2 separate regions of the Homo sapiens genome follow, and region 2 is linked to region 1. The links come from fine-mapping of genetic effects on gene expression. A gene starts in region 1. The other region holds a variant in brackets. All regions are shown on one strand. Distances are between the middles of the regions.

Evidence for each region. PIP is the estimated chance that this variant, and not a neighbour inherited with it, causes the effect.
Region 2: its variant is fine-mapped to the expression of DPY19L1 in whole blood (INTERVAL, PIP above 0.99).

Annotation. Positions count from the first base shown.
Region 1 is chr7:35,028,296-35,043,589 of GRCh38, forward strand. DPY19L1 (dpy-19 like C-mannosyltransferase 1) reads right to left here and starts at 9,190. Exons shown (of 22, transcript NM_001366673.1): 1 at 8,802-9,190. The coding sequence starts at 9,099. LOC105375228 (a long non-coding RNA gene) reads left to right here and starts at 8,491. Exons shown (of 3, transcript XR_001745162.3): 1 at 8,491-8,626. RefSeq lists silencers at 8,880-9,049, 9,080-9,749 and an enhancer at 9,800-10,029.
Region 2 is chr7:35,065,898-35,081,191 of GRCh38, forward strand. The region is part of intron 1 of LOC105375228 (a long non-coding RNA gene); the gene reads left to right. It also overlaps the pseudogene DPY19L2P1. Among named protein-coding and RNA genes, the nearest start is that of DPY19L1, 36 kb to the left of the region's middle. The variant G/T (reference allele first, on the strand shown) is at 8,155.

The DNA.
Region 1 (15,294 bases):
GCATCAAGGACAAAACGATTTATTTTAAAGTGAATACAGTATATGAAAACAGGAGAGCATGGAAAGTATATATCACCATCCCAAAGCGGAATATAATTAGGCTTCTAAACAGAGAAATACACTAAGTAAATGTTCACATATTTTAAATATGTATATATGTACAGATATTAAATTAGGCAATACTTAATACAACTACTCAACGTAAGTGTTTTGAAGACAATAAATTCTAATTTCCCTTAAAAGTCTTATCCTCACATAATATGAATACAAATGTTACCAGAAAACGGTCCTGATCCAGACTACAAGACAGAGTTCTTAGATCTTGCAAAAGAAAGAATTCCGGGCGAGTCCAAAGCAAGTTCATTCAGTAAAGGAATAAAGAATGGCTACTCCATAGGTAGAACAGTTTGGGCTGCTGGACTAAGGATACTTATAGTATTCTCATACTTATGGTTATTTTTTGATTATATGCTAAACAAGGGGTGGATTATTCATGAGTTTTCTGGAAAAGGGGGGGACAATTCCTGGAACTGAGGGTTCCTCCCCTTTTTAGACCATATAGCCTAACTTCCTGACATTGCCATGGCATTTGTAAACTGTCATGGCACTGGTGGATATGTCTTTTAGCATGCTAATGTATTACAGTTAGTGTATAATGAGCAGTGAGGATGACAGAGGTCACTTTCATCGCCATCTTGGTTTCAGTGGGTTTTGGCTGGCTTCTTTACCGCATGCTGTTTTATCAGCAGGGTCTTTGTGACCTGTACCTTTTGCTGACCTCCCATCTTATCCTGTGACTTAGGATGCCTAACCTTCTGGTAATGCAGCCTGGTAGGTCTCAGCCTTATTTTACTCAGCCTCCATTCGAAATGGATTTGCTCTGATTCGAATGACTTTGACGCAAACATTTCAAAATCAAACAGTAATCTACATTAGTAATTTTCATAAAGTAACTTTCTTCTTATTAAAAAAGTGCATTTTATTGTTTTAAGAACAAATGGCTAGATAAGATACACAACCAAGATAATATGATCTGCTTCTGAGCATGCATAGGGAAGCTGTAAAACTTTAGTAAACCTAATGGAAAAAGTGTAGAATCTGCATCTCTCCACTAGAGTAAAAAGAGAACCACACACACCTACAACACACGTCCAGGCCCCATCATATTCAGCAAGAGATTTAACAAGTTCATTAACTGATAACCCATTCCAATGGTAAGATATGCATTCCCCTCAAATTGCAAGCTTCCCCTGGGTATCACAAATCTTGCTTATCTTTTAAGTGACTAAGAAAACTGTGACAGTTTTTTACTATTTTACTGTGTTGTTATATCATTGCCAAGCCAACCAACACAAAAAAATTCAATTAAATAGTTTTCAAAAATAATCATATAAAAAAACCCCAGAGACTGACAGGTTGACCATAAAGATATAAAAGAGTGATTCCCCCAAATGACCAGAAGCCAGTAAAGCTCTTGTCAAAAGAGCTCTAGGGTCATGGGACACATGAGGTCAACTTCCCACTAATGTGCCTTTGACAGATGCCTTAGACTTTAGATCTGAAACCTACAATTTTACACGGATGTAATTAACAAAGACAAGAGAACTCAACTTCAATCCCAAACTTCACCTGCTGAACTCAATAATTACATTGGGCCATTCACCTGGCCCTATTTTAGTTTTCTCACCAAGAAAATTCTAAGAGGGTAACCTTTAAGTTCTACATTTTTATAACATTCCCATGGATATGAAAGATGAGAAAAGAGTGAGAAATAAGGTCTCATTTTCAAAAAACAACAACAACTTTTTAAACTTAGCGGAAAACAATTACATAAGAACTTTATGATTAATATGAAAACCCGCAGAAAAAGATTCTGCTGTTGACAACTCCAACACTGAAAAGCTATATTATAAAAAGTAGTAATTACTGTTAGGAAATAGGAAAAGTATTTGCCCAAAGGGCAGAGTAGTAGCACTTTGGACAAATTTTAGTATTAAAAATATTAATAAAGCCTCGCTCTTCTCAATTACAACAATCTCCCTAAACTAATAATTTGTCTAGGTAACAAGTTTTCAAAAGTAACTGGTCAAGTGACTTATAAACTGTGTTTACAATTAGTGCTACTGTAAACTAGTAGATAAAATCACACGTTTTCATGATCAGTACAATAAACCATACTAGAACTTCTGTAAGTGGTCTTGGTGACAGCTACGCTATTATGTTAACAATTGCTGCTTTAATAAAGTTAAAATTACAAAATGCCATCCAAACATTCTTTATGTGATAGTGATCGTGCTGAAAAACACACCTGACAATCAGCCACAAATATGGAGAAAGATGCCAGAAAAACACAAACAGCTATTAAGAGCTCTCAGGAAAAAAATAATAGTGAGAATGCTGAGAAAATAGAAAGCAGTATTAAAGCACAAAATCAAGCTACAATAGTTGTAGATTTATGTATTCTGAAAATAAATTATTCTGCTTTTTAAATGTATTTATATTCAGTGATTCTTGACTGAATTATGAAAGGTCCTCCATGGAGAACTGATCTTCCCTATGAAATGAAACTGCCCTTTATGAGATTAAACAACATCTAGACCCAGATATAGACGTAATTTTTACTAGCTTTGATGACTAGTAACCATTATAACTAAACAGTTCTAACAGTAACTAAATAAAACTAGCAGCCTCTTCCCCTGGAAGAGTAATGTCTCAATGGTTTGGCTGAAGTACAAGCTGATGGCAAAAGAACTAGCAAAACAGGAATTTAGGATTAAACATATGAATAATAAAGCCTAAAGCTACCCCATTTGGAACTATGTACACAGGTTTATGGTCTCTATGACAATGTAGATTTAGTCAGTCCTCCATATCTGTCAGTTCCACATCTGCAGATTCAACCAACCTCAGATTGAAAATAGTAGGCGGAAAAAAAATCCATCTGTACTGAACACATGCAGATATTATTCCCTAAACAATACAGTGTAACAAATATATAAGTAACATTTACATTCTATTAGGTATTCTAAGTAATCTAGGCATGATTTAAAGTATCCAGGAGTATGTGTGTATGTTATAGGCTAATACTATGCCATTTTATACTAGGGACTTGAGAATCTGCAGATTTTGATATCGGAGGGAGGTCCTTGAACCAATCCCTCGGGGTTACTAAGTAACAACTTGCCTCATTAGCATGAACTTTAAGAAACATTAATATACCTAACACACTCATTAAGAGAAATTAATACAGCCTAATAGGATAAGTATTTACAATGCATAACAGCCACGGTTCAAATATTAGCAACATCCAAATACCCATATGTACATAAATAAAACTGTATGTGCTTTCAGTATTGATGCCATATTATTGGCCAAAAATCAATCACAAATAGATAACATATGCTTATATTTACATAAACTAAACTTATCAAATTTGTTATTTGGATGCTAATGAGCATCACATATTCAGAAAACTTCTAACTGTATCTGTTAATAATAAAATATGTTTAGGTGATTATAAACATTCTTTAGAGTTAGCCAGAAGTCTATCTTAGAAAGAAAAAAAAATGGCTGTAAACATTAAAGAAATTCTTTAAAATCCCAAATTCCCATTGGCATAACCTCTATGAATTAACATAAACACACTCTCACAGCTGGTGCTCAGTTGGGTCTATGTGTCTGTTTGAAAGCAAGCACACCAAGATGGCCTGTGTCCCTGTGCCTCATGCTTCCTTAGCTTTTCTTGGCCCTTATGCCACCCCTAATATGCTCTTTCTACTTGTTGTTCCTGTATCTCTAAGTATGACCCTCTTTTCCTTCTTTTTCCTGGGGAAGGAAGAAACAAGAAAACTAACATTTATTGAGCACAAAATGTTAGGGTTTCTCAGAATTGGACTCTAGGGTTTCATTTCTTTTGCTGTACTGTCCCCTTAGAGGAGATGAAATATAGCATACTAGTTAAGAGCATGAACTTAGGAAACACATTGCCTGGGTCAAATCCTGGCCCTTCTACATTCTAGGGGTGACCTTGGACAAGTTACTTAATATCTTTGTGCCTCAGATTCCCCCCACGTGGTAAAACAAGCACAGTAATCATAGTGTCATGGTGAGGACTGAGTAAACAGTTAAATGAGTTCATCTAAAGCACTTCCAACAAAGCCTGGCAAAGAGTAAGCCCCCTATCAGTATAAGATGCTATTGTTCCCCTAAGTATGGAAATAGAAGTTCAATGGGAATACAAATTCAATTACCATTAATGTGAAAACCACCTATTTGCTGATGACTCCCTGTAGTACATCTCCACTCAGACCTTTTCTCTCATATCCCACCACTGATTGGCATTTCTACTTGGACATCTCACAAATGTCCCAAAAGTAACATGTCCAAGACGAAATTCTTGACCTTTTCCTTCAAACCCATTCCCTCATCCATACCCCTAGTCTTCACTATCTTGGTGAATGCCAGCATTATTTACCCAATTAGAGAAGCCAAAAATGTACAAAGTATTCATAACTCCTTCCTTTCCCTCAATCCAAGCCCAATTCATAAGTCCTATCATTTTCACCTCCAAAATACAACTCAAATTGACCAATTTCTCTCCATCTCCACAGCCACCGCCTTCATCTAGGCCAGCAACCCTCTTGCTAGGTCCGTGAACAGCCTCCTCATGGGTCTCTCCACTTTTGTCCTTGTAGTGCAACCACCCATTTTCCCAAGAGCAGATTTCTCAAAGTAAAAATTTAATCATGTCACTCTCCTCCTGTTGAGCATTCCTCAATGGCTTCCTGTTGCACTGAGAATAAAACCCAAGCTCCTTTTCAAGATCTGGCCCATGCCCATCTCACTTTGATGCACCTCCACCCTCTCTTCTTTCAACATGCTAAGCTCTGTCATACTCTTCTGTTCGGCTGACATCTTTTCTTTCTATCGGTCTCAGCTTCAAGGCTACCTCCCCAGAGACCTTTCCTGACCCTACTTAAAGAGGGTATTTCCTTTTTTTTCTATCTCAGCTTGTTTCTTTCCTGCAGTGCACTCATTCACAATGTGCAATTATTTTCATTTATTTACCATCCCCCCTTCCAGAATGTAAGTTCCATGAAGGTAGGGGTGACAGAGTCTCATTCTACATTTTACCCCACCAACTAGCATCTGGCTTAGTAGACGCTCAATGATATGGTATGACTGACTATGAATGAACTTACTGTGCTATTTTACATGTATTATCTCATTTATTTTTTACCATAATCAGACAAAGCATTTATTATTCCCATTTTAAGGGTGAGAAATATTAAAGGAGTGTAGAACAGCTCGAATGCAGAAACAGGATTCAAATGCAGGCCAGTGTTGATATGGCTATGCTGCTTCTACCACACCACATTGCTCCCCCCATCTAGTCCCCAACAGCTAGATTCAACTCTCTGCCTCCACCCAGTTTCTGACCACTTCTGCCTCTAAGAAGTCGCAAGTGTTTCCTACCATATGGGCTTCAAGGTTCTCGTAAGCTGTAGAGAATAAAAGCTGTGGTCCCAAATGACACAATTTTGCCTCCCAGGGTACAATGGCCAAAATCTGGAGACATTTTCGTTGTCACTACTGGGGAGATACCAGTGGCATCTAGTAGGTGGAGGCCAAGGATGCTGCTAAAATCCTGCAGTGCACAGGAAAGCCCCCTCAACAAAAAAATTATCCCACCCAAAATGCCACAATGCTGAGGTTGCAAAGCCTTGTCAATAAGGAACCAGGTTATAGCAGGTGTACCCTTGCCATTGACCACAGGAACCAGGTGGGCAATGGGAATGAGTCAAACAGGATTAATGCAAAGGGGGGAAAAGGTAGTTTTTATCATCCACTTTTCCCATACTCAGGTTCTTGTTTTATTGTTGTGTATATAGTATCTCATGTTAGTCTTTCACCACAGACATGCTTTGTTTGCATGTCTAATGGGTGTATCTTTTACTACCACAATTGTTTCCATGACGGAGCACTGGCATACATAAATAGACCAACAGACATATAGACTTATGCATATATGTACTGAGTTGCATTGTGGAAGTGTGAACAGGTTTAATATAAAATGTATTGTTACAATGTCAGCTGTGGTCAAAAAAGTTTGGGAAACATTGTCAAGGTTCTTACTATGTCACAGCCACCTCTGCATGAGGAAGCTATCAGGTTGAAACTTCTAAAAATAAACATGTCAAGAACCCCTCTTTACAAATATTAGCACTAAATAAGTAGCAAATAATGCCCCACAATAAGAAAAACATATATTTATGAAAAGAGACTTTTCAACAATGCTTAACCCTGCCCAACAGTGGAAAGACCATGTTGGAAGGCAGTGAGTTCCTCATCAGTGATTAGAACCTATGGAGGAAAGCCCCAGACAGTTTCTAACTCTTGAAAATGTGTGTTTCTATCACGGAGCTTTAAGTTACAAAATTACTTTCTAAATAGAAATGAATCCATTTCTGTCTAGCTTAATATTTAGTTGTTATAATTGTTCTTTTTTTGATCAGTTACAAATGAACTCTTGATGAACAAAAGAATATGCAATGCAATGTGGAAAACCAAACAGCTATTTTAAAGTCCCACATTGAAATACTGTATAATGTCAGCTCAACTCTCACTCATTCTGGGAGGGGGGAAGAAAACAGGAAATAAGGCAGCTTTCAAAAATGTCTAAACTCTGCTCCTCTCTGCAGGATCTGAGTGGTTTTTTGACGCTGTGGCAGGGCATAATCGTGGGGAAGAAATAGGTCTGACATCAGTTTATGACGGTACAGAGCCAGAGAAAGAAGCAACCCAGGTCCAATCATTCAGCAGAATCATCTCTCAAGGTGCCCTGGGGCCTCATGCAGAGGGTTAACAAGGACAGAAAGTCTCTAGACCTGGGTCTGTTCATCCAACTTCCATATATCTGATGGCCATGGTCCAGGGTACACCCAAAAATACAATCTACCACATTCACTGTACCTCCTTTCAATGCTCAAAGGGGCAAGTCAAGCAACGTGCTATACTGTTACATTAATACAAAACTGTATTTAGGTATGGGAATTACTAAATCCAAAGGTAAGTCATCCAAATATAAGTCATGCATCCATCCAAAGAAGATTCAAAGGAAACGCAATCAAAAAAGAAAATATGCAGAAAATAGCAATAAATATCATTATTCTAAGATTTGTTATTGTAACATCCCTGAAGAAGCAATGCCATTCTATATTTTACTACAAAGTGGTTAATGTTTAGTCATTCAATAAAAATGCAACTCCATTCTGTCATCAGATCTCAAATCAGCATCACACACTTTCTTTTATTACAACAACTACAATGTGTCAAGTGCTCTAAACACAAAGTATCTTCCCATGTATCACCCACACCTTTTAGTTATGATCCTTAACAGATCCTGTGGATCCCTGTGGAGTAAATTCGCCATGTGATAACCCCCCACTAGCAGAGAACGAAAGACTCACAAAGGAACCTGAAACTTAAACCAAACTGAACCGCTGTGTACTAGATCTGAAGGCTCTGCCTCATCCACTGTATCGTGCTGCCTCCCCAAGGTGAGCTTTTCTAACCTGCATACTAGCCAGCTTTTCAAGCTTGCTACTGAGATAAAAAAAAAGGGGGCGGGGGGAAATGTGCTGGAAACAGACAAACAAACAAACAAAGAAAAACAAACTTGGTTTTTCTAGGCTTGAATCGGCAATGGGGGGAAAAAAAGTACCCTAGGAACAACCTTCTTGAGCCCATTAAAACATACAGAGATGACTGGCTTTTTATGACTGAGTGGCTTTTATTTGTGGCTGTGATCTCAGGGGAAGCCAATTTGCTGTGTCCTATTCCTTGACTTATACTGGACCCCAACTCCTGGCTAAGGGAACTTTGAGTCACCAAGGGAATCTGAAAATATACTAAGGGATAAATCAACAGTAATTAAATAGTTCAGTAGCGAAAAGCCCACTGAGGCATATAGAAAAAAGCAATGTAACAGCATTTCACTAGTTGACTTAGAAAAATTAGGCCTGTTATCCAAACTGCTACAACTTGCCTTATCAAAATTCAACCAGGAAACAGAGGAAACCTGAAGTCAGTCCGAAACATACGAATGCGTCAACTTTGTTTTTTTTTTTCAGCACATCATTACACATCATCCATTTGGTAAATGGCAGAGGGAGGGGAGGAGAGCCCTCCTCACCAAAGGTTCCAAGGGCAGCAGGGAGGATTAAGGCTCGGGCGCCCCAAACACAACACAACCTAGAAAGTGACGTGTCGAGGGGAATCACAAATAAAGTGCCACCAGCGGCGTTTGCGGCCAGGAAGAAAAAAGTACGCTAAAATTTAATTATAAGTTTAAGCAACTCTCTACGACATGGAACGTGCGTTTGCTTTGAGCTCCACGGAATCGTTTCCAAGCCAAAGCAAACCATCCTGGCGGTCAGAGGCCGAGATAACGGGAAGGCGGCCAGTCGTACCAATCAGCAGCGCTCAAGTCTCGTTAGCGCAGACCTGCTGCCCGCGGCCAGGCCGGGCAGCTGTTGATCCCCGGGCCATTCTTTTAAAGCCCAGGCAGAGCGCGGGTGGGAAGCGTGCGAGGAGAGCTGAGCCAGGGAGTTGCGGGGAGGAGAAGGTAAGAATGTCCCAGAGAAAAAGTCGGAGAGGGCTGCAAACTGGCTGGTCCGGCTGGCGGGGCTCGGCGCGGCGGAAGCGGGAGGAGAGGGGAAGGAAGGGGAGGGGAGGGGAGGGGAGGGGGCCAGCGCCTCAAAGTTCCGCGTCCCGGCGGCGCCGGCGCTAGGGCTGCTCACCTAACAGGAGCGTGGTCCAGGTCCGGCCGCGCCCCGCGCGCCGCAGGCCCAGCGCCCAGCGCAGCCGGGCGGCCAGGCGCCCCCCAAGGCCGCCCCCGGCGGGCGGCGCGCCGGGCTCGGCGCGGGGCCCCTTCCTGCCCGCGGCGCCCTTGCGCCCCGGGGACAGGGGCGCGCGCTCGGGCCCCGGCTCCCCGGCGCCGACGTCCGACGCCCCCCTCAGCGGCGACTGTGAGGCGCGGGGTGGCTGGGGCGGCTTGGGAGCCGCCTCCCGGTGCTTGTTCCGCGCCTGCAGGACCATCTTGGCATAGTCGCGCCCGCTCGCTGCGCGCGCCCGGACGGCGGCCAGAGAACGGCGGGCTGGCTGGGCGGCTGGGCGCAGCTCACTCTCCAGCGGGCGGGCGGGCGGAGGGTGGAGGGCGGGCTCGTCCCTCCCCGCGGGCCGGGAGGCGGGGAGATCGTGGAGGCCGGGCGGCTGCTGCCTGGCTGGCAGTACCGCCGGGAGGCGGCGCCGGACTTGCTAGCCCGCCGCCGTTGCCGCCGCTCCGGTTGTCACGGCGACCGCGGAACGCCGGGGGGCGGGGGCGGGGACACCCTGCGAGCGGCCGCGGCCCCGCCCCCGCCGCCCCTCTGCGCCGGACGCGCGCTCCAGGCCGGCCAGCGCGCACGCGCGGACTTCCGGCGCAGGCGGGGCCCGACCCCTCTGGCGCCCGGCTACCCACACCTCTTCGGCGCCCGCGCGGGGCTCGGCCGGTGCGAGGACGCGGGGGCGGACGGCCTTCCGGAGGCGGCCGCCCTTCCATTGTGGGAGTGATGGGGCCGAAGGAAGAGCCCTCTCGGGATCGGGGCGCTGATTCAAGTTTCGGAGCCTGTTAAGGCTGCGCTTGGAGCCCGCGCAGGCGAGACGCGGCGGGGCAGGGAGAAGGCGCCCGGAGCGGCCACTTAGGGGCGCTGTGCGTGCGCCCTGGGCGCCTGGTCGGCCCCACCGATGTGAAGCGCGCGGGTGGCAATCAAGTCACCGTCTCCGTTTACTCCCCGCAGTGTGGTCGCGCAACTTGGAGCGCAGCCCCTCACTCACCGACAAGAAGAACGGGTGCGACCCGATTTAAGATAGTAACAGAGTATTAAAATAGCAGCCTGGAATCTCATGGGGAGCTGATAAGGGACGAGGCACAAGTGTAAACTGAAGACCAGGGTAGGAGCCAGGCTGAAGGTGATAGGATGGATTGGCTGGAGCAGGAAAGATCATCAATAAGTACATTCAGTTTGTTACACTTGCTGTAACCTTGTTGCTTAATAGGAAGCAGGAAAACTTGGCGTTGATAAGATAGGAGATTTTAGTCGAAAATATGTTTTCTTTTACATAGCAGAATGCACGAGTAAATTAAACCCGGGAAAATTTAGAAACCCAGGTAGATCCCAATTCTCCCTCCACCCCTGCATTCTTTGCACACAGTCTTACAACAGCATGGATTACAACTGGGAGGTTCCTTTCCTGGCCGTGCCCAGTGGCTTGTTCCAAAAAGTTGTCTTTAAGTCCCAATGTTGTAAATCAAGGCCCATCGTTCTGCTTATCTCTATTGTAATTCCAGGGACTTCACGTGGCTTTCTCGCTCTTTGTTTCTTTGCCCAGTGATTTCTTTACTAATACCAGCATTCGTTCATTGTTAGCCTTTTTAAGAGACAGTGGATTATTTTGTAAAGGGAGGGTGTTTGCCATGCTAATTAATACTCCCTCATACCCTGTCTAGTTTATGAATTTGGATTTTCCAATGTCTTTATTGGAGCAAAGAACAACTATTTTTATACACTGGTTTAAAAAATAATGGTTGAAAGTAGGATGCAGAAGGCTTGGATTCTGAAACATTGTGTCAGCTGAACTCAATGCTACCTCTGGGATTAATGTTGAATGTATTCAGTTAAAAGAAAGCTAATTCAATGCCTATTAAAGATAATACGAATAACTGGCCGGGCACCGTGGCTCACGCCTGTAATCCCAACACTCTGGGAGGCCGAGGCGGGCAGATCACGAGGCCAAGAGTTCAAGACCAGCCTGGCCAAGATGGTGAACCTCTGTTTCTAATAAAAATACAAAAATTAGCCAGGCGTGGTAGCAGGCGCCTGTAGTCCCAGCTACTTGGGAGGCTGAGGCAGAAGAATCGCCTGAACCCGGGAGGCGGAGGTTGCAGTGAGCTGAGATACGCCACTGCACTCCAGCCTGGGCGACAGAGCGAGACTCCATCTCAAAAAAATAAATAAATAAAAATAATACAAATGATGGATTTTTTTTAATGATTAGAAAGACGCATGGAAAAAGAGGTTCAACATTTGAATTATTAGATTGCTGTGTGTCTACTTTATGTGATAGGCCCTGAATTCAGGAACTGCCTCCCTTAAGCTGGTACCGTTTGTACCAGGAAAACACTTGTTGAATGAGTGAGTGAATGAATGCAGTTCCACAAGTGCTTGTCAGTTCCCCTTCTCGGCTTGGCAACCATGCGGAGAGGGGCAGTGTGAGGTATTAGTTTTTTGGTTTTTTTGTTTTGTTTGTTTTTTTCTTAAACACGGTCAATTTAGATCCAGTTTGCAGCCACTACATTGACCCATACCAGCCTTGACCAAGGTATTATACCTCTTTGAGTCTGGATTTCTTCATTCTTAAAATGGAGGCAACAAAAACATCTAGTTCACAGGTTTGTAAAAAATAAGACAATGTGTGTAAAGCATCTAACAATTACATATATCCAAGTAGTTGCTCAGTGAATGTTCAAATTGTCTGGATGTTGGTAGTTGCTCAATAAGTGTTCAAAGTAGTGGATGACGTTTAAGGAGAGTGGCAAACTTCTGTCCTCCCAGAACCTGAAGTTGACATTCCAAGTTGGGGTATAGCAAGGGGAGAATGCCACTCTGAGCGGGAGAGCAAGAACAGCCACGTGATCTTTAAGCCAGGCCTGCTGGGCTTCAAGCTTCTCAGCTCTCTGGGCAGTTGATGTGCCTGAATGGTTTCCTGCTTTCCACAGATGCTTTACAAATGTTGCCCATCTCATGGGTCCTTAGGCCTGGATAAAATAGTAGGCAACTCCTCGTGCCCCCTCCCAAAAGGGAGGCATTTCACACAGGAAGGGTGGAGGAATGGAAACCAGAACAGTCATGGAAGATTATGTGCCAGATTTCATTTTATCCTTAGTACAACGAGATCCACAAGAGCAGAGAATGGGAATGCAGTTAATTTCTATATGTATCTGTAGACCAGTGCCTGCCACACATAGCGGTGGATGCTAAAAAACAAAAAATCTCTGGCAAACTGAAAGCTGCATATTAAAAAAACATTTTGTACATGGATGATCTATGAACGGATCTAAGATTATAATGAAATTAAGCATTAAAATTACCAGCTTTAATGTGCTTTTTTTCTGGGAGTTCCAGATGCACCAGAAAGGTACTTCCTGCATGATGCTATAGAAATACTGGGTCAGGGCAGACAGATTTTTAAGGACAGGAACCTGAAAGGGCAACCACTTATAAAGAATTGCTGCTGCCCTGGCCCCTGGGGTGCAAGCCGAGTCTTTTTCTCACTACAAGTTACACTTTGGGCATTGAAATAAAAATGTTTAATTAAAAAGACATATCTTTTAAACTTTGGGGATGGAGACAGAGGAGATTATAAGGAGGAAATGAGCATAAAATAAAAAGCAAGAACATAAAATCATAGAAGAAAACAAGATGTGGAGAAATAAAGCTTAGTGATAATAAGGTATAGGAATCAGGGAAACATTGTCAGATGGGCAATGAAAAAAGTAAATTTGGTCAAGGGAAGACTATGTTGGGAACCAGTTTTCTTATGTCTCCACATTGGCATTTTAAAGGCCCCATTTAGAACTTCTAAATATTCCCCTTTTCCTCCTACTTGCTCTCCTACCCATAGAGTGACAGCTGAATGAGAAATCCATGACATTTATTTGTCATTTCCTTGAACTAGGTCACTTGATCACTGTATTGGAAAAGTGTCCTAGGGTCAAGTTCTAGAATCTGACATTTGTCTTGCTAAGCAGTTGCTCATTCCAAGAGAGGAACCTGCATAATTCCAGCACACTTCTTGGAAACCTAAAATGGGTGCAACAAAATATGTCTGTAACATTCTACTTTCCAAAGCTCCAGCATTAACTTGACACTATATTATAATATATTCTTTTAGTCTGATGAGAACAAATGTAAATTGCTACTCTATTGCTCTTCACATTTTATCTTCTGTCTTTCCTGGAGCTGACCTTGTAATTTAAACTGTTCATGCTCCAATGAGTGTTCCTGAGGAACTCAGAGTTCATTATTAGGTCTAGTTATAGTGCATCATCAAGAACCACTCTGTTGCAGAGAGGCATGTCTCTTTAGAATGTAATTCCTGTTGTTGAGGGCTTACTGTGTCTTTAGTAGATATTAGAGACACTTAAAATTCATATACTAAATCCCCATCCCCAAGGGCTTACAGTTTCATTGGACAGGCAGGGTAAGCTAGAAAAACATATATAGCAAAATATGTGATTCAGAGAATAAGTACTAAAAGATTTCCAAAGGGAAGAGATGATGGCCAACGTGATTTAGTTTTCAGGGAATAGGTGAAATTTGGTCTAGGCCATGCTGGAAGGCTAGATTTTGTTTTAATAGAAGGGAACATGGCAAAGGAAGTGTAATCAGGGAGCTATATATTTCTAAAAACCCTTGCTCAGTGCCTGGCACACAGTCGGTGCTAATATGAACACTTTAAGCCTCTTCAGATGAGGAAGGAAGGGAAGAAACAACTAATGTACGTTTTAGGAATAAGTGAATGGATTAAAGAGTGAATGAATGAGGTAACTAATGAGTGGAACAAGAAATGCCTAGACTACCCCATCTGAAGCCTGGCTTTCAGAGTTCCCCAAATCTAATTGGGCCAGAGCAGGCTTCTCCCCCAAGGGTACTTAGTTCCCCCTACTATGAAGGTGGCTTTAGGAATACTGGGAGGCAAAAATTCTACCTCTGGCCTCCTCTTTGGGCCAGAACTTGCTTTCCTCCAGCTTGCTTCTGTTGACTCCTTTTCAGAGGCCTGAACCTTCCTCTCACCTGCCCCCAGACACAGGAAGATTTGGGACCAATTCAGTTGGACACCGTTTGGTCAATCTCCTACCTCCATTATCTAGGGTGGGAACCTGGATGTATCACACAATGTATCCTCTGACTCCTAAGCTGTTCCCTCTACTCAACCTTGCCTTATGCTTCCTGGGGTCAGCGATCTGTTCCTGATACACTCAGCTCTTCTCTGTAGCTTCCACCCCTTCCCAGAAGACCCTTCTCCTATGACAGGTTCATTCTCCCACAGCTCCACTCCCTCCCTCCCCAAGCCCTCTTTCTCCCTCCTGGAAAACTCCTCTGAACTCCTTTTTATCTCTGCTCTTTGTCACTAGTGTCTTGTGCAGACTGCCCATTAGCTCCCCCTTGACCTCACCAGCATTGGCCCCAGTCCTTCCAGCTCCTACCAGTGCTAGGAATGACTTCAACACTGAGCCTCTCAGCCCCTTGACATCCTCATCTCCAGGGACCTGCACTCCCACTTCATGTCATTGACCAATACTTACGGTCTCACCTTGCACCATATCATCACCCCAGTCTGGCTTTGCCTCTGCATTTTAAAATTCAAACATCCAATCCTCTACTGTCTCCAAGTCTGTTTGGTATTCTGTCTTCATCCCAGGGCCTGTCACTGCAACTCCCTCTGCCGGGATCTTTCCTTGCTTGGTCCGTCTGTCTCATCCACGTGGCAGAATGTTACTATCCAACTTTGGATCCGTACCCATGCTATTTACTGGAGTGCTGGAGAAATCCCACAACATAGAAGGCAGGAACCCTATGGATTCATAGTTTCCATTAGCAACTGGATCCCACATACTGCCTTCTACATTCTCCTAGTTCCATTCTCCCAAGAAGATACAGCAAATGTCCACTAGTCTCTTAAACCTGCTACCATGTTACCCACTCCCACTCCCCTAAACATGGCCTTGCCTCCTACTCAATGGAGAAACTGGGCACCATCAGAAGGAGCTGCCACATACCCTCAGACTCACCAAACAGTCTGCTTCTTACCCCAGTGTAAGCACTGAACAGGCAGGTGGGTGTATGGGTCTGAGACTGAGGAGAGCTGGCCTGTAGACACAGGTTTGGAAATCTTCAACAAAAAGACAATAATGAGATCACCCAGGGGATGTGTGTGAGGTAAAAAGAGCCTAGTTTTTGAACTCTAGAGGACATCGATGTTTGTGAACAAGAGATATCTGTAAGGGAGACTGGAAAAGAGCAGCCAGAGAGATCACAAAACCCAGGAGCATGTGGGTCAGAGAAATCAATGGAAGGAAGTGGTCAGCTGACATGATAATGACTGGCGTGTCCTGTGAACCAGAAACATGGAGGTCTTTAACCATCTTTGTTAGAGCAGTTCTGTGCAGTATTAGATGAAGATGCCAGACTT
Region 2 (15,294 bases), 38 kb after region 1:
TGTCTTCTCTGCTTCAGAGATAGGTAAATCAAGGCATGGGAAAGTCAGGTGTCTTTGTATTCAAACTCAGATTATTAAGCACCTCAAAGAAACTGAAATGGAGAATCTGTGTCAACTCTTTCTTAGAATGGCAGTTCTGATCTCAATTTCCTTCAACTGCGTAATAGAATACACAACTCAGTATCTATTTACACATCACTGCTTTTTCTTTTTGCATTAAGACATCATTTTAGAATAGGTTTTCTGACTTTCTCTGTGTCTCTGACTGCATTAACTACCAAAAGCGTGGCTGAGCCACACTTCACTGACATCATCGTGCTCCCAGCTCAAATCATTTTCATCCTATTGTGAAGCAAAAGCCTTAAAAATGCTCTTTAGTTTTTTTATTTTTTTTATTTTTAAAGGGCATTTACATCCAGCCATTTTATGAGTGCAGTCAAGGCAATTTCATGTTATCTTCCAAGACTTTTACACACTTGGAGAGCCTGGCAAAATGCATTCGAGATGTTTGAGCAAGAGGTCCCATCAGTCATTCACCTGCATGTTTTAAATTGAGTGCCTGCCCTGTCCGGCTGAACGCTCCATTCATCGAATTGCCTGGAACAGCTCCATGGCCCTCAGGAGCCTCATGCACATCTCACACTGTTGCAAAATTGCCTTCAGACAGGATTCTGATTTCCGTCAGAGAATTTTAAATTCCAGCTAATGGAATGCTTTGAAGGCATGTGCCACAGACTTCTGCCCAGTGCAAGTCCTGTGTGTGAGCAAATCTAGCAGGGACTCCAGAGCCTGGACAGCAGAAAGCTGCACTTCCTCAAGAGGATGCAGGATCCTCTCACTTTCCCAGTTATCCTACAGCTGACTAGTCAGCTGAGGGATTCACCTGGCGTCTGTATCTCCCCACTAGCTTCTTACTGTGGGAAGAGAAAGAATAGGATCCTGCTGGGAGCCAGGAGTCCCTGGGTTTAATTAATGGCCTTTTGGCTTTCTTCCCTTCCCCTCTCCACTGTGTGCACTGGTGGACACTGGTCCCCATCCCTGAGGTTCAGTCCTGCCCTGGATTCCAGGTCTACACCAAGCCCGAGAAGGTTCTGGATGAGAAGAGCTGAGTAATTTGCTTGGTCAACAATTTTTGAAACAATGCTTGAGATAACCTTTGGAATCTGGGTTCTTCAACTACACGGTTTCTGTCTTACTTTTCTCTTGCAGGAGGGTCAGTGCTTTCATTCCCAGCCAGCTATTCCTTGTTCTTCATGTCCTCTACCACCTAGTCCCAAATATACAATGAGAACTCCTGGATCTCTTAGTTTCTAGGTGTCTAGTTCTACTTCCCTTTAAATTAATGACTTCCATCCAGGACACAGTGGTTTTGTTTGATTGTATTAATGGATTAGACAGGCCCAAATCTAATGGCAAGCTTTGCCCCTGTCTAGTTGGAGGGCCTTAAGAAAGGCACTTGACATCTCTGAGACCCAATTTTCTCATCTGCAAAACAGTTTTACTAAGATGTCCTGAAGATTAAATTATATAATATATAAAGAGTCTAGGAAAGAGTAAGCCTGTAAATGATGGCTATTATTATTATTTTTACTAGTGTTTGACTATCCATTTCCTCCATGACTGTTGCCTGGGTTTCCAGTGCTCTTCAGACTTATTTTTCTTTGATCACACATCAGTGAGTCCATGGCTAAATGAGTCTATCTTTGGCTCAACTCTCACATTCAGATATATTCTATGCTTTCACCTGAACTTGGGGATCCTCCATGGATTACTGGTCCTACCTCAATTATTTTTCCTGCTTGTTCTCTGCCTTATTTGTCCTTCTACTTCCTGAGCCCCTAATTTATTCATGTGAAAAAGCAAAATTGCACAATGTAAATTCTATGAGAACAGCTTCACTCTAAGGTAAATTATAATGTCTTGTCTTATTCAGGAAATGACTGGATGTTGATGTTCATGTATATCATCTACTAAAATGATAGAATGAATGCTTTAGACACTCTAGAAATAGTTTGTTCTATTTTTCTCTACTTGACTGATGATCTCTTGGGATCAGAACAGATATTCACAATATTAAAACTATAGTAAATGGTTTTGTGGTTGTAACCAATGACAAATAATTTTTTCTTTTTGAATCTGACATCCTCCACATCTACTCTCTGGGATGGAAATGTCTTTAGTGATACTGCCAAAAGAAGCATCAGAGAGAGATTAGATAGAGATGACCTTTCCATGAATTTTAAGAGGAAGACTCTGATATGGTTTGACTTTGTGTCCCCACTGAAATCTCATCTTGAATTGTAATCCTCAGGTGCCAAGGGAAGAACCTGGTGGGAGGTGATTGGATCTTGGGGGTGGTTTCCCCCATCCTATTCTCATGATAGTTGTCACAAGAGCTGATGGTTTTAAAGTGTGGTACTTCCTGACGCTTGCTCTCGCTCACTCGCTTTCTGTCTCTCTCTCTCTCTTGCAGTCTCTCTCTCTCTCTCTGTTGCCTGCCGCAGGTAAGATGTGCCTTGCTTCCCCTTCACCTTCTACCATGATTGTAAGTTTCCTGAGGCCTCCCCAGCCATGCAGAACTATGAGTCAATTAAACCTCCTTTCTTTATAAATACTCAGTCTCTGGTGGTATTCTTCATAGCAGTGTGAAAACGGACTAAAACAGAGAATTGGTACCAAGGTAGTGTGGTACTGCTATAAAGATAACTTGAGAACGTGGAAGCAACTTTGGAACTGGATAACAGGCAGAAGTTGGAACAGTTTGGAAGGCTCAGATGAAGACAAGAGGATGAATGAAAGTTTGGAACTTCCTACAGACTTGTTGAATTGTTTTGACCAAAATGCTAATAGTGATATATGATATAGACAATGAAGTCCGGGCTGAGATGGTCTCAGATGGAAATGAGGAACCTATTGGGAGCTGGAGTAAAGGTCACTCTTACTATGCTTTAGCAAAGAGCCTGGCAGCATTTTGCACCTGCTCCGGAGATCTATGGAACTTTGAACTTAAGAGAGATGATTTAGGGTGTCTGGCAGAAGAAATTTCTAAGCAGCAAAGCATTCAAGAGGTAATCTGGTTGATTCTGAAAGCGTTCAGTTACATGCGCTCACAAAGAGATGGTTTGAAATTGGAACTTACATTTAAAAGGGAAGCAGAGCATAAAGATTTGGAAAATGTACAGCCTGACTATGTGGTAGAAATTTTTCTGGGAAGAAATTCAAGCCAGCTGCAGAAATTTGCATAAGTAACAAGGAGCCAAATGTTAATCACCAAGACAATGGGATAAATGTCTCCAGGGCATTTCAGAGATCTTCAAAGTAGCCCATCCCATCACAGGCCCAAAAGCCTAAGAGGGAAAATGTCCTCAGGGCCCTGGGCCCTGCTGCTCTGTGCAGCCTTGGGACATGGCGTCCTGCATCCCAGCCACTCCAGCTCCAGCTGTGGCTAAGAGGGGCCAAGGTACAGCTCAGGGCATTGCTTCAGAGAATGCAAGCCCCAAAACCTTGGCAGCTTCCACATGATGTTGGGCCTGTGAGTATTCAGAAGACAAGAGTTGAGCTTTCAGAACCTCCATCTGGATTTCAGAGGATGTGTGGAAAAGCAGGCAGAAGTCTGCTAGAGGGGTGGAGCCCTTATAGAGAACCTCTGTTAGGCAGTGCAGAAGGGAAATGTGGGGTTGGAGCGCCCATACAGAGTCTCCACTGAGGTACTGCCTTGTGGAGCTGTGAGAAAAGGGCTACTATCCTCCAGACCCCAGAAAGGTAGATCCACCAACAGCTTGCACCTTGCACCTGAAAAAGCCACAGGCATTCAATGCCATCCCATGAAAGCAGCTGGAGGGGCTGTACCCTGCTAAGCCACAGGGGTGGAGCTGCCCAAGGCCATGGGAACCCACCCCTTGCATTAGCGTGCCCTGGGTGAGACATGGAGTCAAAGGAGATCATTTTGGAGCTTTAAGATTTAATGACTGCCCGGCTGGGTTTTAGATTTTCATGTGGCCTGTGGGCCCTTTATTTTGGCCAATTTCTCCCATTTGGATGGGAATACTTACCCAATGGCTGTACCGCTACTGTATCTTTTTTTTTCTTTTTGAGATGGAGTCTCCCTCTGTCACCCAGGCTGGAGTGCACTGGTGTGATCTCGGTTCACTGCAACCTCTAACTCCCACATTCAAGCAGTTCTCCTGCCTCAGCCTCCTAAGTAGCTGGGACTATAAGCGCCGGCCACCACACCCAGCTAATTTTTGTATCTTTAGTAGAGATGGGGTTTCACCATGTTGGGTAGGCTGGTCTTGAACTCCTGACCTCAGGTGATCCACCTGCCTCGGCCTCCCAAAGTGCTGGGATCACAGGTGTGAGCCACTGCACCTGGCCCCCTATTGTATCTTGGAAGTAACTAACTTGCTTTTGATTTTACAGACTCATAGGTAGAAGGAACTTGCCTTGTCTTAGATGAGACTCTGGACTTGGACTTTCAGGTTAATACTGGAATGAGTTAAGACTTTAAGACTCTTGGGAGGGAATGGTTGGTTTTGAAACTTGAAAGGGACATGAAATTTTGGAGGGGCCAGGGGTGAAATAATATGGTTTGTCTCTGTGTCCCCACCAAAATCTCATTTCAAATTGTAATCCTCAGATGTCAAGGGAGGAACCTGGTGGGAAGTGATTGGATCATGGAGGTGGTTTCCCCCATGCTGTTCTCATGATAGTGAGTGAGTTCTCATGAGAGCTGATGGTTTTAAAGTGTGGCACTTCCTGGTTCGTTCTCTCTCTCTCTCTCTCTCTCTCTCTCTGTCTCACCTGCTGCTGTGTAAGATGTGCCTTGTCTTCCACCATGATTGTGAATTTCCTGAGGGCCCCCCAGCCATGCAGAACTGTGAGTCAATTAAACCTCCTTTCTTTATAAATTACCCAGTCTCTGTTGGCATTCTTTATATCAGTGTGAAAGCAGACTAATACAGACTCCTTCCCTGGACACTAGAACCATGATGGCATTAGGGATGGAGTTATTAATGCATAATAGCAGAAAGCTCTTTACCTCAACATTATAAAGATAATAAAGGTATAGTTAACAATGATTGTACACACATTGTAGATTCCATTACAGTATTAAATTGAGCAATAGTGTTTGCAGCAAACTATGGGCATTATTCTTTAATTTCCCCTCCCATTAAATTATTCTTTAATTTCCCCTCCCATTAAAGGAGAGGGTGGTCTCTTTTCAGGTAAGGATTGCTCATCTTTTTCTTCTGCATGCCTCATGCCATGCATGCCCCATGCAGGTGTAAGCTAGATGGCATTCTGTATGTCAGGACCATTTTTCATTACTGCAAAATACTCAAACTAAGTTTTAAAGAAAAGAATTTCTATCCTATGCATTGCTATAAGGCTTTTTATTCCAACATATGGTATTAAATACGAGTTATGTGCTCAACTGTGAATTTATATGAAAAGGAGATTAGGACACAACAGGCATAGAGGAAAGATCATGTGAAGACACAGGGAGAAAACACTTATCTGCAAATCAAGAGGAAAGATCCCAGAAGATACTAACCCTCCTGATAGATACCTTGATCTCCGACACCTGTCTGTGGTACTTGATGATGGCACCCTAGCAAACTAACATAATTGTGATGAAACACAGAGGCCCAAGAGTGGCCTTTGTGTTTCATTTCAGTGCTCTATGTTCTGGCCAATTGTCTGTCATCTTCCTTTGTGCGTGAATGAGTCCCCTGTGGGCAAAAGCAGAGGCCACCCGTGGAGACATACCTAGATGGGTGGCAGGCAGACAACCACTATCTGTCATCTACCCAACCACCACTTATGTCCTTTTCCCTCCACATCCCTCTTCTTTCAAAATCCCTCCCCTCCTACTCACCTTCTTCAGGTAGCAGGAGTGGGAGGTAGGAAAAAGCAATAGACTTATTAATGTTAAAGATCCAAGCTGCAAACCTTTGCTTCTGATTAGCTTTTTGGTTTCAGACTCTTTCTCTAGGCAAAATTTTCTCAAAATTATCTGCTACAGGAATTCAGAGAAACATTTAAAACTCTAAAAGTAGACCGATACCACCACCTTCCCCATCCTCCACCCAGCCAGCCTGTGACAGTAGGTAAAATCTGTATACCCAACACCAATTCCCTTGATGGTATTTGGATCCATTTCCAATTGAGAAGCAGTCATCTATCCTTTTTCATTAGCTTCGCCTTCACTGGTGAGAAGTTAGTGGGAAGTAAAGACTCTGGAGGCCTGGAGTTGTTGGGTTTTAAAATTTTATGCCTGGAGGGTAAGTCCACTCTAGTAAATGTGAAGTTATTTTTAAACTTAAAGCCATGGAATACCACTACATTATAGTAACCAGCTATTTTGCAGTATAACCTACATTCATTCATGTATTGTTTGTATGAATGTTCTGTTTCCAGCATAATGGCTTTTAAAAATTAAAGATATAAATTAGCTATTATTAGAGAAACAGCACAATAGTAAAACTCCCATAAATTGGCATAAGAAAATATTAATAATAGACTCTAGAGGGGACAGTCTCTAAAGAATAAACAAACCATTGAGTAGAGAACAGAAATCCCACCCAACCAGTAAGTGCTCTATGCTGATCTTCAAACAATGGGTTCCTGGGTCTTAGCAATAACAACAAAAACAACTCACCACTAACCCAGTGCTTACTGAATCTCATATGCTTTACATGTATTACTTTATTTTTTTTTCCAAATGTCACTTTTGAAGAAGATACCTTTAATATTTCCACTTTACAGATGATGAAATTTTAAAGTGTTATATAAATTGCCCAGCTAGTAAATGGTAGAGCAGGGATTCAAACCCAGCCTTAATATATATACTATTATTTTGATCCCCAGAGCACTCAATATAGTGTTGGGTACTTTTAAAAGAACTAAGAAAATGTTGAGCCATATGGGGGATGATTCAGCCATATTGTAGGGACAGAAAACAGTAAAAGTGACCCAAATACCCTATCTTTAAAATTTTTCTATGTTTTAACCATTTATTTTCCACATTATTCTTTTGTGCAATGTTTGCTGAGCATCTGCTATGTTCCAGGTACGGTGTCGGGTGGAAAACAGGAATAAATAATATACAAACCCTTTTATTAAGTAATTCAGAGTTCAATGAAAGACTTCAAAGGAAAACAGATCATTTTTAAATGATCGAACTATGTGACAGGTGGAGTGGCATTAGCAGAGCACAGAGGGGATGGTCAGGACTGGCTGCTGGCAGGAGGGGACATCTGAGCAGGTGAGAGGCAGGGGTGTGGGAGGAAGACATGTAAGACCTTAACAGGCAAGGGTACAGTGTGAGCACTGGCAGGAAAAAGAGTTGCTGGAAATTTCCAGCAATTCATTGTTGCTGAAGCAGAACGTGTGATGCCGGGCGGGTCCCTGATCGTGGAGTGGAGGAGGGATGCAAAGCATGGAGACCCTTTTAAGGCACCAGAGGAGGGAGAGAGATTGAACAAATAGGAGAGGTGGGTGGGTGAGGGAGAGAAGAGCCACTGAGATCATCACAACTCAAACAAAACTAAAATGTAGTGCATGTCCTTGAGTTCTCTTGCTTTCTCCCATTTTCCATGAAAACGTGCAAACTAGCACCTTAACACTTTTTGTAATTTCATGACAAATGCTATCATATTTCATAGCCAGCAGATGGCACTAAGTATACATAAAATGAACATTTTGCACACTCACTTTTTTTTTTTCTCTTGAGACAGTCTCACTCTGTTGCCCACGCTGCAGTGCAGTGGCGCAATCGTGTTTCTCTGCATCCTGGGCTCCAGCGATCCTCCTGCCTCAGCTTCCCGAGTAGCTGGGACCACAAGCGCCTACCTCCTACTTATTTTAAAAGAGTTCAATCCAGGCTCTACTGTTCCCAAGGGACTTTTCTCCATACTAGGAACTCTAAAATCTGACAATGGTTTGGATCTGTGAGATAGAAAAGGCATCTTATAGGTACAGGGTCCTGTCTTCTGCCAGGGTCTACTGTGCTGCAGTCTCAGAGGGATATCATCAGGGGATCCCAGTAAGGTTGTAAAATGAATAATGATCTTGGTGGCACCACACCATCTCTGTGTAGTGAGGAAAACTTATGTAAAACTGGAACGGGTGAAGGGGTGAAACTAGGAAGGT[G/T]TCATAGCTGTTAGAGGATGGGGAGCAGGACTGGGTGGGTAAAGCCTTCAGCTGTGAGGCCCGTTGACATCTATGAAAGAGGAAGAAAGCGGGAGAGCCTCCAGCTGCAAAGGACGGCTGACCAGGGCTTGGCTTGCTCAGTGAGCAGCTTCAGAGCAAAGATTGCCTGATGAAGCAGTTCAGCATTGGGCTGAAACAGCCAGGCCCTACAGTACCCTTCTCATCTGGTTTGGCTCTGTCCCCACCCAAAATCTCATCTTGAATTGTAATCCCCATAATACCCACATGTCAAGGGAGAGGCCAGGTGGATGTAATTGAATCATGGGGGTGTTTTCTCCCATGCTGTTCTCGTGGTAGTGAGTTCTCACGAGAGCTGATGATTTTGTAAGTGTTTGGTAGTTTCTCCTGCGCTCATTTCTCCCTCCTGCCACCTTGTGAAGAAGGTGGCTTGCTTCCCCTTCACCTTCTGCCATGATTGTAAGTTTCCTCAGGCCTCCCCAGCCATGCTGAACTGTGAGTCAATTAAACCTCTTACCTTTATAAATTACCCAGTTTTGGGTATTTCCTTATAGCAATGTGAGAACAGACTAGTATATCTTCCTTGCTCAGTCATTGGCTGGGGGTTACCCAGGAAGAATGTGACCCAGAGTGAATGCCATGCACATGCTGATGGCGCTACAGTTGAAGGCTGTCAGTTACCTCTGCTCCCTGCAGCTGGACAGCAGGTTCTCAGAGGAGTACCCTAAAGGTGGTGTACTTTTGTGGCTGCCACACCATCCTTGTTAAAGAAATAACTCTCATGTATGATCTCCATTGTATTTCTTAGGTCTGTATGAAGCTGTGTAAACAGTCTTGCTCTTTTCAATAGCTGAGGTGCTTTTTAAATAAAATTCATAGGTTCTTGGATATGATTCAATCCAGTATAGTCTGTGAACTGGCTTTGCAGCTTCATCTGAATAATCTCAATATTTACATATGAGTTATATGTATCTCTTGGAAGAAAATTTTAAAAGTAAAAGCCATTATCTATATGGGCTCAAAGGATATGAAAGAATTTTAATCTCAGAAAAGCACAATAAGGAAGTCAATATCTATTTTAATCTCAGGCAAGCATACTAAAGAAGTCAGTAGCTGCAAAAGCTCCTCAAAAAATTATTCTAAGTCAAATATAAATAATCTTATTTGCTCTTTTGGATTATGAATACATCATAGCTTTTTTATTAACATCCAATTCAAAGTTGGCCTATTGTCTGGTGGTATTAAAGTGGATCACATGTGTAGCCCTTAATAATGCACATTGACATGGAACACTTGGCTTGATCCTCGTAATTCTATGAGGTAGGTATTATCACCTATGTACAGATGAAGAAACACATCCTGAGAGATGTGAATTTTAATGCAATTTCTATGAATGACATCTTTTTTTCAAAATCCTATGAAACACAATCTGGTAATTTTTAAGACACCGTACCACTCTTTCCTTACACCATATACAAAAATCAACTCAAGATGGATGAAAGATTTGAATGTAAAACTTAAAACTATCAAAACCCTAGAAGAAAACAAGAAAGGCCATGGACATATGCCTTGGCAAAGACTTCATGATGAAGATGCCAAGAGCAATTGCGGCAAAAACGAAAATTGACAAATGGGATCTAATAAAACTAAAGAGCTTCTGCACAGTAAAAGAAACTATCAACAGAGTAAACATACAACCTACAGAATGGAGGAAAACACCTGCAAGCTATGCATCTGACAAAGGTCTAATATCCAGCACCTATAAGGAACTTAAATCAACAAGCAAAAACAAACAACCTCATTAAAAATGGGCAAAAAGTGTGAACAGACACTTCTCAAAAGAAGACGTGCATGTAGGCAACAAGCATATGAAAAAATGTTCACCATCACTAATCATTAGAGAAATGCAAATCAAGACCACAGTAAGATACCATCTCACACCAGTCAGAATAGCTATGATGAAAAAGTAAAAAAAAAAAAAAAAAAAAAAAAAGATGCTGGTGAAGTTGTGGAGAAGAGAACACTTATACACTGCTGGTGGAAATGTAAACCAGTTTGGCCACTGTGGAAAGCAGTTTGGAGATTTTTCAAAGAATTCAAAATAGAGCTATCATTCAACCCAGCAATCCCATTACTGGATATATACCCAAAGGAATATAAATTGTTCTACCATAAAAACACATATACATGTATGTTCATTGCAGCATTATTCACAATAGCAAAGACATGGAATCAACCTAAATGCTCATCAATGGCAGAATGGATAAAGAAAATGTGGTACATATATACCATGGAATACTGTACAGCCATATAAAAAAATGAGATCACATCCTCTGCAGCAACATGGATGGAGCTGGAGGCCAGTATCCTAAGTGAACTAACACAGAACAGAAAACCAAATACTGTATGTGCTCCCTATAAGTAGGAGCTAAACACTGAGCCCACATGGACAAAAAGAAGGGAATAATAGGCACCAGGGCCTACTTGAGGGTGGAGGGTTGGAGGAGAGCGAGGACTGAGAAAATACCTATCAGGTACGATGCTTATTACCTGGGTGACAAAATAATCTGTACACCAAACCCCATGACATGCAATTTACCTATATAACAAACCTGCAAATGTACTCCTGCACCTAAAATAGAAGTTGGAAGGAAAAAAATACATTGCACAAATGGAAACAATAAAATCTACAATTTGAACATTTATTTGAATAGCTGGACGTGTCATCAGAACAACTCTTGATGCTTATTTAGGCTCCCAGAGTTACCTAAAGAGAACATGAGGTTTAAGAACCACTGATGAGGAATCAAAGCCCTACTTTGAAGAGTATAAATATATATTAAGCATTATATACATATATACACACACATTTTAAAGAATTATAAAATGAACACTTGTATACTTAACACCAAGGAATTGAATATTAACATTGAAGCACCCAGGGCTTCTCCTGTATTGCATTCTTTCCTAGAAGTGATCACCAGCCTATGTTTTGAATTAATTATGCCTATGCTTTCGCTGTTTTGCCACACTATATCTTCTATAATATTGTCTTGTTTGCTTTTAGGCCCTATGTAAATGGCATATATATTGACATGCACACACATCCCCTTTGATGACTTAGTTTTTTAACAGTCTATTTGACATTGGTTCCCACTGATGCTTGTCACTGTAGATCACATTCATTCCTTTACAATATTACGTTGTATGGAAATATCCATTTTATCCATTCTGTTGGTGGGCCTTTGAGTTGTTTTCAGCTTTTTTTCCTCAGGTACAAATAATGCTTCCATGAAGATTCTTGTAATTGGTTTCCTTGGTATATTTGTAACAACATTTCTTTAGGGTGACACTATAAATTGCAGAGACTACATACTTTAAAACTTATTAGGAATTAACAACTTATTTTCTAAGGTGGCTGTACCAATTTACACTCCTACTATAATTTCATGAGAGTTCTTGTGGCACCCTGTCCTCACCAATTCTTATCTGAATGTAAATATTACCATGTGGTTTTAATCTGTATTTCCCTATTTTCTTCTAAGACTTTAAACATTTTACTTTCATTTAAGTCCTTGACCCATTTAAATTTGACTTTTGTGCATGAAGTTATATATATATACCTGTCCTTTTGAAAATGTCCTTATATTTCTCTTATTAAGAATTTTCAAAGATTTTTCTTTCCCCTTATCTCAATCCCCATCCTTTATGAACAGACTCGATGAATTAAAGAATATGAACCCATACAGAGCTTCAGAGACATACACTTTCTAAAGAATATGGTGAGTTTTTCTGGACATAGAACAAATACAAATGAGAATAATAACAAATACTATTTTGGGCCTCACAAATTAGCAAAATATATTCTTAATAAGGCTAATTAATCCCAGTGAGAGTGTTGTAAAATGAGCATTGTTATACACACTAACTTTTGGTGGTGCATACAATCCAAAAGGTGCACACATACCTTTGCAAAGGTAATTTGAGGCTAACTGCATTGAAGGCTTTAAGGGTGTCCACAGTTTTTTTAAGGAAATTTAACTTTATGAAATCTTTCCTATGGAAATAACTTTAAAATCATAAAGTATGCACTAAGATGTTCATTGCAGTGTCTGTATGTATATCTTAACCACTTTTGAGCTATTGCCATTTTTGCTGCTATGTGTATGTATATATATAATTGTCCCCTTCTTTAAAATGTCCTGTTTTTTTCAAAACTAATTTTTCTGTGAGTTTGTCCTTCGTGTATAATAGGAACATGTAATGTATAAAAATATAAACATAATTTTATTATTAAAGTACTCAGATTTTTGGTGTCTATCAGCAGCAAAGTGGTAGAACACAGATACTGTTGAAGCTGTGCATTTGCTTCTGACAACCGGATGAAGCAGATGAAGGAATTGTTGCAGCTTGTGTGCACCTCACTTCTAGCCATAGTTGCAGATTAGTGTGCAAACATAGGATCCTAGAAACTATGGAAAAAGCTTCATTGAATTAAGTGAAAATCTCCTCATGTTTCAAAAGAATAAAAAATAAAATTTATACAGGCAAGAATTCAGTAGAACAATTTGTATAAGAACAAGCTGCAGCCCAGTACTCCTATTTGTTGACATCAAATAAAGGGGAGACTATTTGGAATTCTGAAATGAGCTAACCTCACTCTGCAACTTGATATTACTGAAATGGTTATTAGTGAGTTGTAGTGGGTAGTGCAGAAGAAACTAATGTTTGTTGAGTGCCTTTATGTGCCAGGTACTTCAAAACTTTGTTTCACTAATCCTCATAATGACTCCGCCAAGTAGGTATTGTGAGTTCTGCTTTACAGGTGAAGAAAGCTCATGGAGTTAAGTAACATGACCAACCATAGCATGGTGCCTGACATACAGTAAGTGTTTAATGAATATCTTTTGAATACATGGTAGGTACCTAACTAATGGAAGCAGTATTCAAACTTCGATACATCTCATTGCACAGCTCACACTATTTCCATCATAGTATATTGCCTTCTGTGTAAGACTATACAGAATCATTTTTAAATGGCTAAGAAAGAGCACTGCCAGTGTAAACATGGCTAGTAAGCCCAGCAACCTATTTCTCCCTTTATATGAGAACAATTTCAATTTCAAAATGTATGCATTGTGAAGGATGAGAAAAGACAGAAAACAGGATCTTCAAGGGCTTTACAGTTACTTAACACAGCTAGTACATGAAAATAACATAAATATATATGAAAACATCGTATGTGTATGGAACATTTTATTAGTACAGCTCATCCATTTTTTGTTGAGTTCTACTGACTTTTTAAAATTTATTTTACTTTAAGTTCTGGGATACATGTGCAAAACATGCAGGTTTGTTACATAGGTATACATGTGCCATGGTGGTTTGCTGCACCTATCGACCCGTCATTTAGGGTTTAAGTCCTGCATGCATTAGGTATTTGTCCTAATGCTCTCCCTCCCCTTGCCCCCCACCAACAGGCCCTTGTGTGATGTTCCCCTCTCTGTGTCCATGTGTTCTCATTGTTCAACTCCCACTTATGAGTGAGAACATATGGTGTTTGGTTTTCTGATCTTGTGTTAGTTTGCTGAGAACGATGGCTTCCAGCTTCATCCACGTCCCTGCAAAGGACATGAACTCATCCTTTTTTATGGCTGCATAGTATTCCATGGTGTGTATGTGACACATTTTCTTTATCCAGTCTATCATTGATGGGTATTTGGGTTAGTTACAAGTCTTTGCTACTGTAACATCATCTGAAATGTGTTACTTTAATTTTATGTTAGGTGTTACGTCTCTTTTCCTTTTTTGTCCCACACATCACTGAAACAGATTATTTGAAAATGCTAAAATAAGTAAAATGTGCGGCATGCTTTCTTAGATGCTTTGTCTCCTGTACCAAAATAATTTACAAATACAAAAGTTGGAAATAATTTTATTAGTTTTTTAATGCATAAATCCAAACATATATATGTACTGAATATTTTATTAGCTAATACAGTACCATTTTAAAAATTCTACCAACTTAAACTATTTCCTGTAAAAACATCATCCAAAATATACTTTGTTAATTTTTATGAATGTTATTTTTTTAAGTCTCTTTTCTTTGACGCTCTCCTTTTTTATCCTGTGCTTACACCAAAAACAAATTATTTGAAAATGCTAAAATAAAATGTGGCATGTTTTCTTAGCTGTTATGTATTCTGTTATAACATTTTACAACTATTAAAGTTGAAAAATAACTTTATTGGTTTTGCTGCATATAGCTGCCTGTCTGCTATAAGAGAACTAATCTATAAAATTAAGGCATTTTGTTATTTCAAGTGTAGAGGGGCAAGAATGTAAGGGAATTATAAAAACCCCAAGATGACTCATTTAAAGTAGATGCACATTAAAATACTATAGATCTGGCATATTTCATATTTATAAAGCAGACAAAAAGAATGTTTATCTTTGCATTTGGCAAGAGTATCTATCTTCAAGATAACTACCACTTTTCAAAGCACTATTGTTGGGTAGGTTTTATTAGGGGAGAGGACTTAGAAAACATGACTTTCCTCATCCAAAACCAAAAATAAATGAGGGCTTAAAAATATATTATTTAAGAAGATGATAGTGGCCAGAAATAAAGACCATGACCAACAAGCTTTGGGGCCATCAAGATGAAAAGCCGTTTGCTTTATTCAAGATCTAGGATCTGAAAATCTCACTTCATAAATTTAACTGGATTTTCTTTTCTGATTATGTTTAACCCCAAAATTTGGTTGTATACCATAGCAGTTTCTATTTTACCTGGATGTTAAAAGAAAAACCATTGGAATCTAAAGAGAGATGAATAACCTCTTGAGCTTAGATGGAGAACTAACCAGTGGCAAATATGTATCTAGTGGGGTAAATACATCTCAAGAGATTCAAAACGTTACAAAACAAGGTGTTTTTAAAAACACTTCAACTTGAAATTATAAAAAAAAAGTATTAAAAGGTATTAGAGATCTTTCTTAAGGGCTGGTGAAATAAAAACACCTTAAAAGACACACTGTTACAATTTGCTCACAGAGGTAAAGAGGTTGTGATCAGTATCAGCATTTTAAGGATGTCATTTCAGAGCTTGCGTTCTTCTCC